Regions from separate parts of the Homo sapiens genome. Here region 1 is linked to region 2. A link means that fine-mapping ties the variant in region 2 to the expression of a gene that starts in the linked region. Tissue or cell type: whole blood. Region 2 holds a variant in brackets; the other region holds the start of a gene. All regions are shown on one strand. Distances are from middle to middle. Region 1 holds the start of APRG1 (APRG1 tumor suppressor candidate). Region 2 has its middle 14 kb from the start of ITGA9.

What was found. PIP is the estimated chance that this variant, and not a neighbour inherited with it, causes the effect. A credible set is the group of variants that fine-mapping cannot tell apart.
Region 1: it holds the start of APRG1, and the variant in region 2 is the best candidate, but not a certain one, in a credible set for the expression of APRG1 in whole blood (TOPMed, PIP 0.77).

Annotation. Positions count from the first base shown.
Region 1 is chr3:37,377,518-37,385,857 of GRCh38, forward strand. It overlaps APRG1 (APRG1 tumor suppressor candidate), which reads left to right and starts at 3,560. Exons shown (of 5, transcript NR_171174.1): 1 at 3,560-5,854; 2 at 7,624-8,340.
Region 2 is chr3:37,433,554-37,441,893 of GRCh38, forward strand. It overlaps a transcript of APRG1 not described here. Among named protein-coding and RNA genes, the nearest start is that of ITGA9, 14 kb to the right of the region's middle. The variant ACAGCT/A (reference allele first, on the strand shown) is at 4,025.

The sequences.
Region 1 (8,340 bases), 56 kb before region 2:
CAGATCTCATGAAAACTCACTGTCGAGAACAGCAAGGGGGGAAGTCCACCTTCATGATCCAGTCACCTCCCACCAGGCCCCTCCTCCAACATTGAGGATTACAATTCAACGTGAGATTTGGGTTGGGACATAGAGCCAAACCATATCACCCTCCAAGACATGAACCAACAAATCAAAGTTATGTCTGATCCGACATTGTTGCTAGATCATCCTGATTCAGGTCAGGACTATTTTGGTGGCAGAAGCTACTTATGACTTTGGTCCTTGTGCAAGAATAAGCAGACTTCCACGTTGTGGATTTTACTGTCGTTGCACCCTCTGAAAAGGAATGCAAGGCAGGCTTTCCCAGAAACTTTCTAGACCTTGCATCATAATGCTCCAACAAATATTATCTGTAAGTCCAGGTACTCATGAATATTTCCAGCCCCAAGTAGATTAGTTCCCTTCTGATGCTCAGTGACTATGTCTCCATTAGCAGTAAGTACTTAGCTAGAATGAATACAGTGCCCAAATCCCATAGAAATGGAATGGAACTTGGCAGTGAGGAATTGTAACAGAGTACATCCATTTTTCTAAGAGATAAAATGAATAATTAAAAAAAAATTTTTCTCTTTCCCCCTTTTCCCCGATTCCTACTTAGCTCTTTGGAAATGCAATTATAACCTTTTACCTTCCCTTCACCAGACACTCCCTACAGGGCAAGCGCATCTAACTTTGTCCTAAGAAGCTCTGCTGGGAAGCTCTCTCCAACCAGGAGGTTGTCTTAAGAGAAAACAGTTAATTTACATCCCAAAGTACGTCCACTACAAAACTCTGTCCCACCTGGAGCGTTTTGGCCACCTTTACAATATAGTTCTGCCCACAAAGGCACCAGTAGTCACCAGCTCAGCTACCCACTAGATAAAGCCCCGAAGCAAGTTATGTGGACCCCTAGCTGCTCACTTCCTCTCCTGTATGCCATTCATGCAAAGCCCCCTTTTAAAAGCACTAACTTTCGGCCGGGCGTGGTGGCTCATGCCTGTAATCCCAGCACTTTGGGAGGCTGAGGTGGGAGGATCGCGAGGTCAGGAGTTCGAGACCATCCTGGCTAACATGGTGAAACCCCGTCTCTACTAAAAATAAAAAAAAAATGAGCTGGGCGTGGTGGTGGGCGCCTGTAGTCCCAGCTACTCGGGAGGCTGAGGCAGGAGAATGGTGTGAACCCAGGAGGCGGAGCTTGCAGTGAGCCAAGATCGCACCACTGCACTCCAGCCTGGTGACAGAGCAAGACTCCATCTCAAAATAAATAAATAAAAAATAAATAAAAGCACTCACTTTCTGCTCAAAAAGTGAGGTGGTGCCCCTAAGGCAGGAAGTCTGCATATGTTCTCCTAAGTTAGCTTTGGAATAAAAAGTCACTTTCTTTATACCAGGCCTCACTCTTGTTAATTGGACTCTGCAAGCAGCTGCATTTTGGTTACACTTTGGTACATTCAGTAATAGCTTTTCTTTTCTTTTCTCTTCTCTTCTTTTCTTTCTTGAAAGGGTCTCACTGTCATCCAGGCTAGAGTGCAATGATGCAATCATGGCCCACTGCAGCCTCAATCTTCTGGATTCAAGTGATCCTCCCACTTCAGCCTCCTGAGTAGCTGGAACTACAGGTATGCACCACCCACCTGGCTAATTTTTAAAATTTTTTTGAAGAGACAGAGTCTTTGTTGCCCAGGCTGGTCTTGAACTTCTAGCTCAAGCAATCCTCTTACCTCAGCCTCCCAAACTATTGGGATTACAGGCATGAGCCCAGCCCATACAGTATTTTTCTAATATGTGAGTGGATGGACGGAACAACAGGCTGTGTGTATGTACATAAATTTATATGTCTATTTATATTGAGTCATTAAAATTTCTTTGAAACCGTCTTTAATTGCATAATATTTTATCCTATGAATATACCGTTGTTTAACTCATTTTTCTGCTGTTGAACATTTTGGTTATGTGCAGTCACTTTCATTCAGTACTCCATAATGCTCTTACTTTTCTGTAGGTAGAAGCACTTGAAAAAACAATCAGGACCAACCTGTCTTTCCGTAAGTAGCCTTTGGTGCCAAACAAGTGGATACATTTCAGATTATCATGTGGCAGGTTTGTCTGGTGCCATATCCCCTAACACTCTAAGTCGCAGTGCACGGGTCAATATTCTGAGTTGGTATGCTTTTAGAACAACACCTTTCAACACTGGGCTCTGCTCAATTTGATGTGTCAAAGATGAGGGGAAATAGCAATGACTAAAGCATACTTTCTATGGCCAGAGTACGTGGGTGATAGGTGAGGGTGCAGGAAGGGCAGCGCAGCATGCCTTCCATCCTTGAGCCACTTGTTTCTATTACAACCATCAATTTTCTCTCACCTTAATTTGGGATCCTCTTTGGTTAGGTGGTGGTGGTTGTTGTTGTTATATTCTTTAGATATGTTCACACTCCAAGCATGTGAACATTGTCTTAATGACACTTTGTAAACAATGCCACCATTTAAAAATTTAAAGATTTTCCTCCAGATTAGCCTAAAATGCAGATATGGTTTTATTCCTTATAATTTTACAGTGGCTTACTCCCCTGCTTCTGGAAGACTTCTTGGTTGCCCCACACCCAGATTAGGCACTCTTTCCCATTTAAACAGGAGTATTCAGTGTGTTTCCCTATCTCTGTTCCTGTTTCTCTTCCACTACTGTATGTTGGGAGTGGGTGGGACAGATAATTTGTCTTTAAAATTCACAGGTCTCCAAGAGAAGTTGAATCAAGATCTGGCATTGATCATGAGATCCTGGACATAATGTCAATGCAATCATTGGACAAGTCTTTTGGGATATCTTGGGGAAGAGGATGAGTATATTTTTCCCAGCAGCCAGGAAGGAAATGAATATTTATGATCCAGTGTGCAGATCATGGTAGATTGGATTATTGTTTTCAATTCTTCACTCTCTCCCTGTGTTTGGATTTCACAGCTACATACTTTGTTATATGACTTTGCGGTATCTCCTGTTAGAATAGATGGAGTCCATTTCTCTCCTGGCATTGGGTTTGGGTGTGTGAGTTTTGGGTGGATAGAACATACGCCACATCTGAGTGAAAGATGACTACTATGTTGTGTAAATAAACACACAAACCAAAACAACAACAAGAACAACCAAAATAAATTTCAGGATAATGTCTTGAGTTTTTAAAAGTGTGACAATGATATGTCTTGCTATGAATTTCTTTAGGTTTATCCTGTTAAGAATTTGCTCAGCCTTTTTAACCTGTAGGTTTTAGTCTTTTGCCAGATTTGGGTTATTTTCAGCCATTATTTCTTTAGGTGTTTTTTCAGCCCTACCCTACTTCTGAGATTCTAGTGACACAATGTTGGATCTTTTTTTGTAGTCCCACAGGTCTCTGAGGCGCTGATCATTTATTTTTTCAGCCTATTTTCTCTGTGTTGTTCACGTTGTGTAATTTATTGTTCTGTCTTCCAGTTCACTGATTCTTTCCTTTGGAACCCTCCATTCTGCTATTGAACCCATCATTGAGGGTTTTTTTTTTTTTTCCTGGTATTGTATATTTTAGTTCTAAAATTCCCACTTGGCTCTCTATAGCTTCCGTTTCTTTGATGAGAATTGTTTGTTTGTTTCAAGCATGTTTGTAATTGCTCATTGAAGTGTTGGTAGGATAGCTGCTTTAAAAAATCTTTGCCAGATATTTCTAACATCTCTGTCATCTTGGTGTTGGTATCTACTGATTATCTATTTCCACTCAAGTAGAGATTTTCCTGGTTCTTGGTATGTCTAGTGACTTTCAACTGAAACCTGAACCTTTTGGATATTATGAAACTCTGGATCTTCTGTTTTAGCTGGCCCTTTTTGACACACTTTGACGGGGAAGGGCACCTAGTTGGGGGCACACCATTACTGCCAGGTGAGGGCAGAAGTCTAGGTTTTCCACTTGGCCCTCATTAACACCTGGAGTTGGGGAGGGTCTCCTTATTACTGTTGGGTGGAGGTGTAGAGTTAGGGTTCCCCAGTAGGCCTCCTCTGATACCCAGTAGGCCTCCACTAATTACATATATGTATACACATATACACACACACACACACACACACACACACACACACACACATCTTATCTTAATCCCAAATATGATAGTACAGGATAACATTAAGGTTGTTTGACCTAAGGGCAGGATTTAGTAAGTATGTGAAAGAAATCTCAGAAGAATTCCCGCAACTGGGGTTAATTAGCATCCAAGATGAAGTTGTTTTACCCTTCACAGGGGTGGAAGTCCAGACTTCCCATATGGTCTCCACTGACATGGGGACATGATATGGTGGGAAGGTCTCACTGCCTCCCACCAGGGATGCTTCCTACGTGGCCTTTTCTGACATCACCCTGGACAGAGTGTGCTTCCTTTACAGCTTGGCAGATGTTAGAGGTCTAGGCTGTCCACTCGACATTTGCTGGCATGAATGGGGGTGGGCCTGCAGTATTTTCTGTGGTGTTTGGCTGGAGTAGACAGTTGTCTGAAAGCTTTCTGTCTTGCTAGGCTGCCTCTGTCCTGGTTCCTTGGCTAGAGAGAGGAGTTCTTTTTTGGAGATTATTTTTTTTTTTTGGTCTGAATTCAGCATTTCCAGGTAGCTGGCTTCTTCAGCTCCAAGTCAGGGATCTATGAAGCAAAGAGAAAACCCAGGGAACTCACCACCATGGCATTCCTTAGGTCCCAAGGTCTCTAGCTGGTCTGGCTTCGCTTCGTCTTTTAGAGTGTTATATTTGTTTTATATATAATGTCCAGTGTTTCTAGTTGCATTCTGTGGGAGGCATAGGGAGAAGTATGTCTATCTTCCCAGAAGCAGAAGTCTCCAATACAATGTGATTTTATTTATGTAAATTTTAAAAGTTGTATGTATTGTCACAGATATACATACTTTTAATAAATGTATGCATATATAAACTGGAAGGATATATAGTTAATTCACCATGGTGTTTATAACTGATCTTCCCTGATCACTACCACCCAATCTCTGTTTCCTCACACTTCTTTAGTTTTTTCTTATGGCATCTAGTATTGTCTGCCCTCATGTTGTGTGTTTATTTGTTTATTGTCTTTTTCCTCATACTAGAATGAAAACTCCAAGAGGGCAGGAACATTATCCATCCTGCTCACTGTTGCATCCTTAACACTTAGAATATGTAGTAAGCACTCAATAAGCATGTACTGAGTGAATAAATTAATGAAAAAGTGAGTAAGAAAGGGGATAAAATGTATCAGTACTTTCTCTGTAATTAAAAACAAAACATTTTGAAAAGACTGAGAATATCACCTCTTTCTCCAATGAGAAGGCACATGGAAATGCAAGGGAGTATGAGAAACACAGTTATGGGCAGAATATGGACTCTTATTTTATAAGTCAATTAATCACAAATACTGCTATTTTAAGGAACCAATTACTTGTAACACAACTCACAACTGATCAAGACACACCAGTGGGAATGAGTACAGCTGGAAAAAGCTCTCTATTGTTTTAATTCCTACTTTATTATTATTGTTTTTTTAAATTTTTTAAACAACTTTTAGGTTCAGAGGTACATGTGCAGCTTTGTTATATAGGTAAACTCGTGTCATAGGGGTTTGTCGTAGAGATTATTTTATCACCCAGGTACTAAGCCTAGTACTCAATAGTTATTTTTTCTGATCCTCTCCAGATGCTGGCAAGGTTGCGGAGCAAAGGGAACACTTATACACTGTTGATGGGAGTGTAAATTAGTTCAACCATTGTGGAAAGCAGTGTGGTGATTCCTCAAAGAGCTAAAAACAGAACTACTATTTGACCCAGCAATCCCATTACCAGGTATATACGCAAAGGAACATAAAGACATATGCACCTGAATGTTTACTGAAGCACTATTCACAATACCAAAGACATGGAATCAACCTAAATGCTCATCAATGACAGATTGGGTAAAGAAAATGTGGTACAGATGCACCATGGAATACTATGCAGCTGTAAAAAAGAATGAGATCATGTCTTTTGCAGAAAAATGGATGGAACTGGAGGCCATTTTCCCTAGCAAACAACTACAGGAACAGAAAACCAAATATCACATGTTCTCACATACAAGTAGCAGCCACATAATGAGAACTCATGAACACAAAAAGGGGAACAACAGACCCTGGGGCATTCCTTCTTTTCTAGATAAGTTTTTCTTTTGGGATTTGAGCCTCTTTGATTTGAAATTTAGCATAGGCCCAGAAGAAGACTCTGTCCTCTGAGTTTAATTTTTCCTAATCTCCTGGAGAGGCAGCATTGGCTACTAGCTAAGAGTACAGCCCCTGGGGCCAATGCTATGGAGTGAATGTGTCTCCCAAAATTTGTGTGTTGGAAACTTAATCCCCAGCACAACAGTGTTGGGTAGTGAGGCCTTTGGGGAGGTGTTTAGATCCTAAGGGCTTCGCCCTCATAAATGGATTAATGCCACTATAAAAAGGGCTTGTGGGAGTGGATTTTCTCTCTCTTGCCCTTCTGCCTTCCACCATGTGAGGACACAAAAAGAAGTTCCACACCAGATGCTGGCATCTTGATCTTGGACTCCCCAGGCTTCAGAACTGTGAGAAATAAATTTCTGTTCTTTATTAATTACTCAGTCTCTGATATTCTGTCATAGCAGCACAGAACAGACTAAGAAAGCCAGTCTGTCAGTGTTCAAGTTCTGGCTTGACCATTTGCTCACTAGGCAAGGGAACTAATCTGTAAGCCTCATTTTTCCCATCTATAAAATGGGAATAATAATAGCATCTACCTCTAAGCGTGGCTGTAGATTGAATTACTACTTATAAAATGCTTAGAATGGTGTCTGAAACACAGTAAGAGCTCAATTAAAATTGTCTATTGCCAGCCTCTTGTTAATAGCTTATAAGATTGAAATTATTAATTATTAACTATTAACATGCAAGAGTGCCAGGTAAAATGCAGGTTGAACAAAACTAAAGCCAGGCACTTTTGTGGTTGGCCACAATAGGCAAGATGCTAATGACTATGGTCACCAACTGCCCAGAACCAACCCCTGCCAATGCCAGGAAGACCTTACAGAGAAGAGCCTAAGCCAAAAGAGGTGCCCACGTTCGCCTGGAGGTTGGCAAAGGGAAGACTCATTAAAAAAGACAAGCAAAGACTGCAGGGAGGGGCTTCACCAATCTGGCTGTCCTTTCCAGCCCTTGTTGTTTTCTCACACACTGTCCTGCCTTGAGAGCAGGATTTCCTTCCTTTCCCTCTGACCTCAGAGGCACCCCACTCTAAGTGGGTCTATTTCATCTCTCTGTGCCCTCATCCTGCAGGGATCCTTGAGATGCTGTGTCAAGCTGAACTCTAGTGTTTGCAAAGCTAATGATCACTTGGAGCAGCCAGGGCTTCTCTGGGGCAGGCCCGAAGGAAAGCTCAGGAGGGGGCCCCTGCTTTAACCTTGGCTCTAAGTCTGTTGGAGAAAACTCAGGATTTCCTGAGCCTAAAGCCAGAATTGCCATCAGGTTCTCTATTAGTCCTATTTGTGTTCTATTAGTCTGTTGGTGACCACCTTGCTGCATTACCCTGGGATAATCCAGGCTTGTTTTGCTCTACCCTAGGTCTGTGAGGTGAATGGCTGCCCAGTAATCCTACTGCCAGTATTCAATGAGAATACACATGCTCACTTTGTTCCTGCCTGTGTCAACCGTAGCAGCTTCGCAGTCTTAACCACTGGGTCTAACCTTCTTGGCCTTTTCCTTTTACCTCAACTCTGCTCAGTCTCGAACTTGCCCTTCATTCCTGACCTTTGATTATATTCTCTCAGAGTTAACCCTAATTCTGGCCTCCAGGGCTCCGTAACTATTATTCACAACCAACCCTTGGACGAAGCCTGATCCCAGCTGTCCCAAGGAATCATCCTGTTTGGTCCAGACCTGACCCCTGGATCCTGCCCCATCACAGGCTCTTGAGGCTGGTTGGGGAGGGAATGGAACTGGTTCATGGGGCCTGGTTGTATGCTTGAGGCTGACACTGTCATATATAATGAACCTAAGCCCACATGGCACTGTCCACCCCAGCCATGGCTGAATCAGAGGGGAGGCCAAGAGTTTGTGAGTGGAGCACCAGATGAGTCTGATAGAAACTTTCAGACCCCTGTAGGTGGGGAGCTAGACTTGAGCTTCTTACATAAACCCAGGAGGCACTGAAGACTGGTCCATCCATTAAACCAGAAGTAAAAAAAACAAAAACCAAAGACCAAAACCCTCTGCTATCCAGTCTGGGAAAGCAGAAGAAGCTGCACTTTGCCCCGGTCAGTGGATAGAAGAAGAGTTGCC
Region 2 (8,340 bases):
TTCATACAAAACATTAAGTGTTTGCCAGATGCTAAGTTGACAAACATACTTTATTCAGAGTATTGGATGGTTCAACTCTGGCGATAGCAGCAAATGGATTCTGTTGTGGTTTGAACTACATCAACTTGCTTAGGCTGGAGTTATGTTTCCCAGAATCCCCTTCTCTGAGTGGTCTCAAGTTAGAATTGGTCCAGAGAATAATTTGCACAACGTTTGGAAGGTAGAAGTGAAGCAGCCACCATTATTCTCTGAAGATTCTCAGGGTTGGATGTGACAGACAGATGCAGAGGTGCTGGCGGGTTCCATTTATCCTTGCTGTCCTCCTCTCTGTGGCCTGGTATTCCTCCTGGCTGATGACCTTGTTGACCTGCAGTGGTCCTGGCCCATCACAAGATGCATGGGGACTGTAATTAATTTATCATTGCATCTCCAGTGTATGGTGCAGATCCTGTCTTATCAGTATCTTAATTGGTCATTGAATAAACACATGTGCATGGTTTTATATGCATTGATTTTTGGCTACTCAGCATTGGGAAATAATAATACAATTTTCTGGAGAATCATCCCTGTCCCACATTTAGTCAATGTATGTTGGGTAAGGTTTATTTCACACCTAGCTCCACTGACCGCATGAGTTCAGCCAGGCCAATCAAGTTATTACATTCACTTGGCTACAGTGGTTGGCCTGGGGATGGAACATGACTCAGCCCAAGCCAATAAGATGTGGTGAGTCTTTTGCTGTGACTGTCACAACAGAGGCACATGGCGTTTTCTGCTGGACCTGAACCTGGGAGGATATAGGCCTGACTCTGTTGGCAGCCATTTTGGCGCCACACTGAGCCTGAGAATGAAGCCAACATTGTGAATAGCAACGTAATGAGAAGAAACAAGAGTGGGTTCTGATAATATTTGAGCCCCCTGGATTGAGCTGTGCCTGAAGTCAGTATCCCCTGGATTTCAATTATGTGAACCAATAACCATCCTCCCCCTTATTTTTTCCCCTCAAACCACTATGGAGTGGGATTTCTGTGATGTGGAGCATAAACTGTCCACTCACACTGAATAGTTTTCAATTTCCCTTTAGGAGCAAAACGCCTTTTTCAAATGAATGTTCACACAGAATCCCATTACACAGCAATGTTAATAGCAGAGCTCACGAGGACCAGGACCTGCTCTCTTGCCCTCCATCCCCCAAGTTCTGAAGCAGTTCCTGATGCCTCTGTGGAATGCTGGTCTTGGCAGAACACAGTTAGAAAACCATTAATTTAGCCCATGTCTGTTATTTTAAAGGTAAGAAAACTGAAGTTCAGAAAAGGGAGGGGACTGACTCAATCCCAGCTGCTGGCAGATCTGGGACTGCAAACCAGCCTTCCATTGCTCCACACAGGTGTCTCTTCTCACGTGGAATCACAGCATTGGATGGACTGAAAAGAGGAAGAGGCTGCAATGGAGCAGCACACCTGGTGCGTGGGGATGCCTGGAAAACAAAATTAGGAGAGCCCTGGGTCAGCATTGCTCTGGCACTGGCTGGGCCGGGGGCCATCCTGATTCTAGAATTATCTTGGTTCCTGGGATAGAAATGTCCCCAGAGTGGAGAAGTTCAGTTCAATCCAACATCCTTATATTGCAATGAGGATAAAGACCACAGACCCTATGGCCTGTATGACCCAGCTGCCCATTTCTAGGAACCCATTCCTACAGAAATGACAACATGCGTGTGCAAACAGCAACAATGACAAACATACCCTGGGATGCTTTCCCTCTGTGGTTTGTTATAGTAAGATAGCGGCTACAGCTTATATATCATCAACAGAGGACTGGCTAAATGATGGCACTTCATTCTGCAGAATCTTTTTTTGTAGTCAAAAAGAACAAGTTAGATCTATATGTGTGAACATGGAAAGGTGTACATGACTTAAGTAGAAAAATTAAGTTGCAGAACGATATTTATAGTATAATTTCATTCTTACAAAAACCGTTTTCTAAAACTGTGTGTGTAAAAGGGCTGGAAGGATACATCCACAGTCTTAATACTGGTTACATCCGGGGAGGAGAGTTGGGGCTTGAGGCAGACTTTGGCCATTCAATTTGGATGGGGGCCAGAGACCCCCGCCTCTCAGATCTGAGACTGCTGTACTTACTTTCCTGCCTCCTTTGCAGCACAGGCCATGACAAAGACTGTTAAATCACCTTGGGTGGGAGGGGACAGGGCGTTTCCTCTATCTGGCAGAGGGGGCTGCAAGGTCAAGTTCCTGACAGAAGTGGTGCTGTTTCCTACTGTAGCATGCAGTGGTTATGTACTGTAGTGCTTAACGGTGGCAGAGGCAGCTTCAAACACACCAGCACACTGGTCAACTTTGGGGTCTTACTCTTGGAAGCCTGGCCTGGAGCTTCCCTCTCACATTCTGTGAACCACCCAGTATCCTTCTAGTAAACTCTTCTGCTTCATTGTTCAGAGTCAGCTGAGTTAGAGGGACTTCTGATTATTTTATACATGTCATCTGATACCTAAATATATGTATACATTTTTTAACCAAACATATTTAAGAGGATACAGATGATCTCGCCTAAAGGAGCATGCAGTGCATAGAGGTGTGTGCCCCTGCCCTGTTTTGTATTTTATTTTATTTTTTGAGATGGGGTCTTGCTTTGTTGCCCAGGCTGGAGTGCAGTGGTGGGCTCTCGGCTCACTGCAACTGCCTCCTGGGTTCAAGCGATTCTCCTGTCTCAGCCTCTCGAGTAGCTGGGATTACAGGTGCATGCCACCACGCCTGGCTAATTTTTGTATTTTTAGTAGAGGCGGGGTTTCACCATGTTGGCCAGGCTGGTGTCGAACTCCTGACCTCAGGTGATCCACCTGCCTTGGCCTCCCAAAGTGCTGGGATTACAAGTGTGAGCTACCACGCCTGGCTCGCCGCCCTGTTTTGAACCAGGGTTTTCATGAAAGAGGTGAATGTGCTGACCATTAAACAGCAACTACAGCAAACTTGGTTTGCAGTGAGATGTTTGCTCGGAAATGTTCTTTTCTTTTTAAATAAGCAACTTCCTGAGCTGCAAGTTAGTCTTAGGCATGGCTCCCTCACCGGGAAAGTTGTGTCCTGTGCAGGCTGCACTTCCCACTGTCCCTGTGCATCTGCCTGGGCCTTCTTCCTCTTGGTTCTTGGGTAGACTGACTCTGTCCCCTGAAAGCCTGGTCCTCTGAGGAGACTGAAGTTTGCATGTCACACAGAGCCGGGAGATCTGGCCCTGGATGAAACTAGGGGACAGCTCCCAACGGCTGCTCAATTAGTGAGTTTCCTTTGTACTTCAACTTGGGTAAGCTGGGCTAATTAATAAGTGGACTTGAGAATGACAAACCTTCATGGCCAAGGTCCAAAATGTCATGTTGGTGGAAGATGGCAAAAGTCTGGTGAGAGGGATGTCAGAAGTAAAAGGACTAGGTACCAGGAAATGAGGAATCAGGATAGCATTGTCCACAACTACTAAAGGTCCATGTTGATTTATTTCTTTGCTTTTTCAATGACCTTTTGATATTTGAATTTCACACATCGCTGTCTTAGTTTGCATCCTCCAGAAGCAGTACCTGAGACAAGGATTCAAGTGCAAGTGGCTTAATTGAGAAACAGTCATTCAGGGATCACCATTCAGGGACTGGAGAAGTAAGACAGGGAAGGAAGGAAGCCAATGGAGAGTGCGTTATTGAGCAAGTTACCACTGTGGGCAACTGGAGCTCAATGCCTCTGGGGAACTCTGGGAGCCAGTGTAGAATATACAGCTCAGAGTTTTTTCATTGGAGCAAAGGGAGTCATTGGTTGAGTGTTGCTCCAGGGAAGTGTTCATTCTCTAGCATTTCTGGCCTGCCATGTGTGTGGGCAGAGAGGGCTCCAGTAATCAGGAAGCCTTCGACAAAGAGTCTTAGATGCTGGCTGTTGGAAGTCAGGCCACATGCACAGAAATATCACATGCTGGTGGCATCTGCGTGGAGCATCCACAGCATCTGCTACAAGTTTCTTTCCTTCTTTGC[ACAGCT/A]CATGAAATTTGCCTGCCTTCTAATCAGTGCGTGGAGACTGCAAGGTAAGCAAAGAGTTTCACTTGATCTTAGGTGATCATAGACGACTGATCTCATTTATATTCTGTTTAGGTATCCATGTTTATAGTCAAAATATATCAAATTGCTTAATATCCATACCACACACAGAATAAGATAACATACCTGGTTTTTAAAAAATAACTTCAGCGGCAAAATACATACTATTTTAACAGCATCCAAATTTGAGAGAGAGGTAAAAATATATTCCCTCTTATATAGTGAGATGGATGGAAACCAGAACAGAAAGCCCTGAACCCTTGGGGTTGCCCATGTAAATACTGTGACGGCCTACAATGCACTGAGGGAGTGGCTACTTGGTGTTGCCTATGGTCATTTGCCACCTTTTGTGATGAGCCTCCAACTGGGACACCTGGCCATTAGGTCCTAGTTACTCAGGAAGCTAACCTGTTAGTCACTAAATTCACTGTACTGTTGTTTTCCTAGGGAAAAATAAGTGCTGATGCATGATGTATTGCAGTTGTTTGAAAACATGCCTCAAGTTTTACATCATCTGTATCTTAATCCCTTTGGGCTGCCACAGCAAATTGCCACAGACCAGGTAGCTTAGAAACAGCGGAAATTTATCTCTCAGTTCTGGAGGCTGGGAAGTCCAAGATCAAGGTGCTGACAGATTCAGTGTCTGGTGAGGGCTCACTTTCTGGTTCGTAAATGGTGCCTTCTTGCTGTGTCTTCACGTGTTGGAAGGGGCAAACAAGCTCCCTTGGGCTTCTTTCATAAGGGCACTAATCCCATTTACGAGTGGGTGGACTTAAGTGAGGAGTGGTTCGGACAGCCAACAAGACTATCAAACACCCACCACAATAGGTTGTTTTAAAGATGAGGAAACAGAGCCTCAAGGAGGTAGAGAAATGCCGCATGTTCCACAACTGGTCAAGAGCAGAACTAGGATTTGAACCCAAGTGGTCTGATGGCCCAGCTCCTGCTGTGTTCTTTCCTTCTGCTCTGTCACCTCTGGTATGGGTAATGTCTGCTCTTGCTCACGTACTTTGTAGGGGACAGAGCTTTTAGAGAATAGGAGGTTTGGGGGAAGAGGGGAAGGAAAGGAGGGCAGGTGGGGACTGTTGGAACAGGGACCCAACCCAGGGAGTCAGACTTGTTGGAGGCTGCCTCAGGACAGTCAAGGACACTGAATCCACTGACTCTCCACTCTCCCTCCTCTCTGTTAATTGGTTTGAGGAGAGGTCTATGTTAAAGAGCTGGAGCCTGATGAATTGTTATGATTGTGGGAAGGAATGGATGCTCACAGGCTCAGACAGAAAAACAAAATGAATTGGCCTATCTAGATACTTCCCACAAAATGCTTTCAGTTCCACGTTAATTCCAAGTTTGTCTCTTAAGCACATTTGGAATATGTAAATAATCTTAGAATGTCACAATCTAGAATGTAATTTAGATAAGCTGAGAACCAAAAGAGAAGACCGCATTGCCTTGTCTGTCAGGCCTGTGTGGGTCCGATTTAATGACTCCTGATGGTATGAGGTTGAATTGGGCAGCAGATTGGACACATAGCTATAGTGCCAGCTATTCATGTTTAAAATGTCATTTTAGACTGGGTGCAGTGGCTAACGCCTGTAGTCCCAGCACTTTGAGATGCTGAAGCAGGTGGATTGGTTGATCCTAGGACTTTGAGACCAGCCTGGGCAACATGGCGAAACCCTGTCTCTGCAAAAAAACAAAAACAAAAACGAAAAAACCCAAAAACCAAAAAAATGAGCTGGAAGTGGTGGCACACACCTGTAGTCCCAATTACTCTGGAGACTGAGGTTGGAGGTTCTCTTGAGCCCTGGAAATGGAGGTTGCAGTGAGCCGAGATCATGTCACTGCACTCCAGCCTGAGCAACAGAGTGATACCCTGTCTCAAAAAATAAAAGTAAAAATAAAATGTCTTTTAAAATGCAGTCATGCACCACATAATAACATTTTTGTCAATGATGGATGATAAGATGCTGGTCCCATAGATCATAACGGAGCTGAAAAATTCCCATTGCCTAGTGACGTAGCTGTCATAATGTTGTAGCATAACATGTTACTCACATGTTTGTGGTGATGCTCATGTGTGAGGCTGGGAAAGGTGGCTCTTGTCTGTAATCCCAGCACTTTGGGAGGCTGAGGTGGTAGGTTGCTTGAGGCCAGGAGTTGGAGACCAGCCTGGGCAACACAATGAGACCCGGTCTCTACAAAATAACAAAAAAATCCAACTTACTATGCTGCCACATAAAAAAGCATAGTATATACAATTATGTGCTGAACATAATACTTGATAATGATAATAAATGACTATGTTATTGGTTTATGTGTTTACTATACTATATTTTTATTCATATTTTAGAGTGTACTTCTACTTATTAAAAAAAGTTGACTGTAGAACAGCCTCAGGCAGGTCCTCTAGGAGGTGTTCCAGAAGAAGACATTGTTATCATCAGAGATGACAGCTCCATATGCGTTACTGCTCTGAAGACTATCAGTGGGACAAGATGTGGAGGTGGAAGACTGATATTGATGGCCCTGAGCCTGTGTCGGCCTATGCTAATGTGTGTGTTTATGTCTTCACTTTTAACAAAATGTTTAAAAAGTAAAAATAAATTTTAATAGAAAAAAACGTGCAGAATAAGGCTATAAAGAAAGAAAATATTTCTACAGCTATATAACATGTTTGTGTTTTAAGCTGTTATTATAGAAGAGCCAAAAAGTTAGAAAAATTTAAACATTTGCAAAATAAAAAAGTTATAGTAAGCTTAGTTTATTGCTGAAGAAAGAAAATTAAAGAAAAAAAATTTAGTGTAGCCTAAGTTTTCCGTGTTTATAAAGTCTACATTAGTGTACACGAATGTCCTAGGCCTTCACATTCACTTACTCACTGACTCACCCAGAGCAATCTTCCAGGCCTACAAGCTCCATTCATGGTAAGTGCCCCACACTGGTGTACCATTTTTAATCTTTTATAGTATATATTTTACTGTACGTTTTCTTTGTTTAGATACAAAAGTATCTTTGTGTATCTAAATCTTTGTGTTACAATTGCTTACCTTACCTTTGTGTTACAATTGCCTACAGTATTCAGTACAGTAATGTGCTATGCAGGTTTGTAGCTTAGGAGCAATAGGCTACACCGTGTAGCCTGGGCATATAGTAGTCTATACCATCTAGGTTTGTGTAAGTATGTTCCAAGAGGTTTGCACAACAATATTGCCTAACAACACATTGACGGAGTCTCACTTGTCGCCCAGGCTGAAGTGCAGTGGCATGATCTCAGCTCACGGCAACCTCTGCCTCCCAGGTTCAGGTGATTCTCCTGCCTCAGCCTCCTGAGCAGCTGGTATTACAGGTGCATGCCACCATGCCCGGTGAATTTTTGTATTTTTAGTGGAGACAGGGTTTTGCCATATTGGCCAGGCTGGTCTCGAACTCCTGACCTCAGGGTGCCTCAGCCTCTCAAAGTGCTGAGATTACAGGCCTGAGCCACCGCGCCCGGCCCTAACAATACATTCTCAGAATGTATTCCCATCACTATGTGACGCATGACTGAATAACTTCCACTGGGTTCAACTGACCCCCCATCTGGTTGTTACTTTGGTGCACTTATTTCCATTTAATCTGTCCTCCTTACTAGGTGGATACTATTATCAGATGAGATATGGAGTCCCTATAAGGTGTAGCAACTAACCCTGTGTCTGGCAGCTGGTAAGTGGCAGATCAAGATTTGGACTCAGGTCTTAAGTCTCGGACCATAGCTAGGTCAATTGTTCCACCACAGAGCCATCCCACACTAGGCAGGATTTCCTTGTGTCCTGACTCAGAAAGGCAGCTGTGGCAATGCGGATCTGTTATGTGGCTCTAACTACCATCCCCATCAGCTCACCACTGAGGCGAAGAGGTATGTGTTTGTTATCTATTACTGGGTCATAAATTACCCCCAAATTTGTACTGGTTTTCTATTGCTATGTAACAAATTACCTCAAAGCATAACGGCTTAAAACAATATCAATTATACTACAGTTTTTGTTAGTCAGGAATCCCGAAGTGGCTTATCTGGGTGCTTCTGGCTCAGGGTCTCTCATAAATGGCAGTTAAGCTATTGGCTGAGGCTGAAGGTTTGACTGGACCTGTAGGGTCCGCCTCTGAGGCGGCTCCTGACATGGCTGGCAAATTGGTGCTTGAGGTTAGCAGGAGGCTTTACTTCCTCTCCACATGGGCCTCTCCACAGGCTGCTTGAGTGTCCTCACGACATG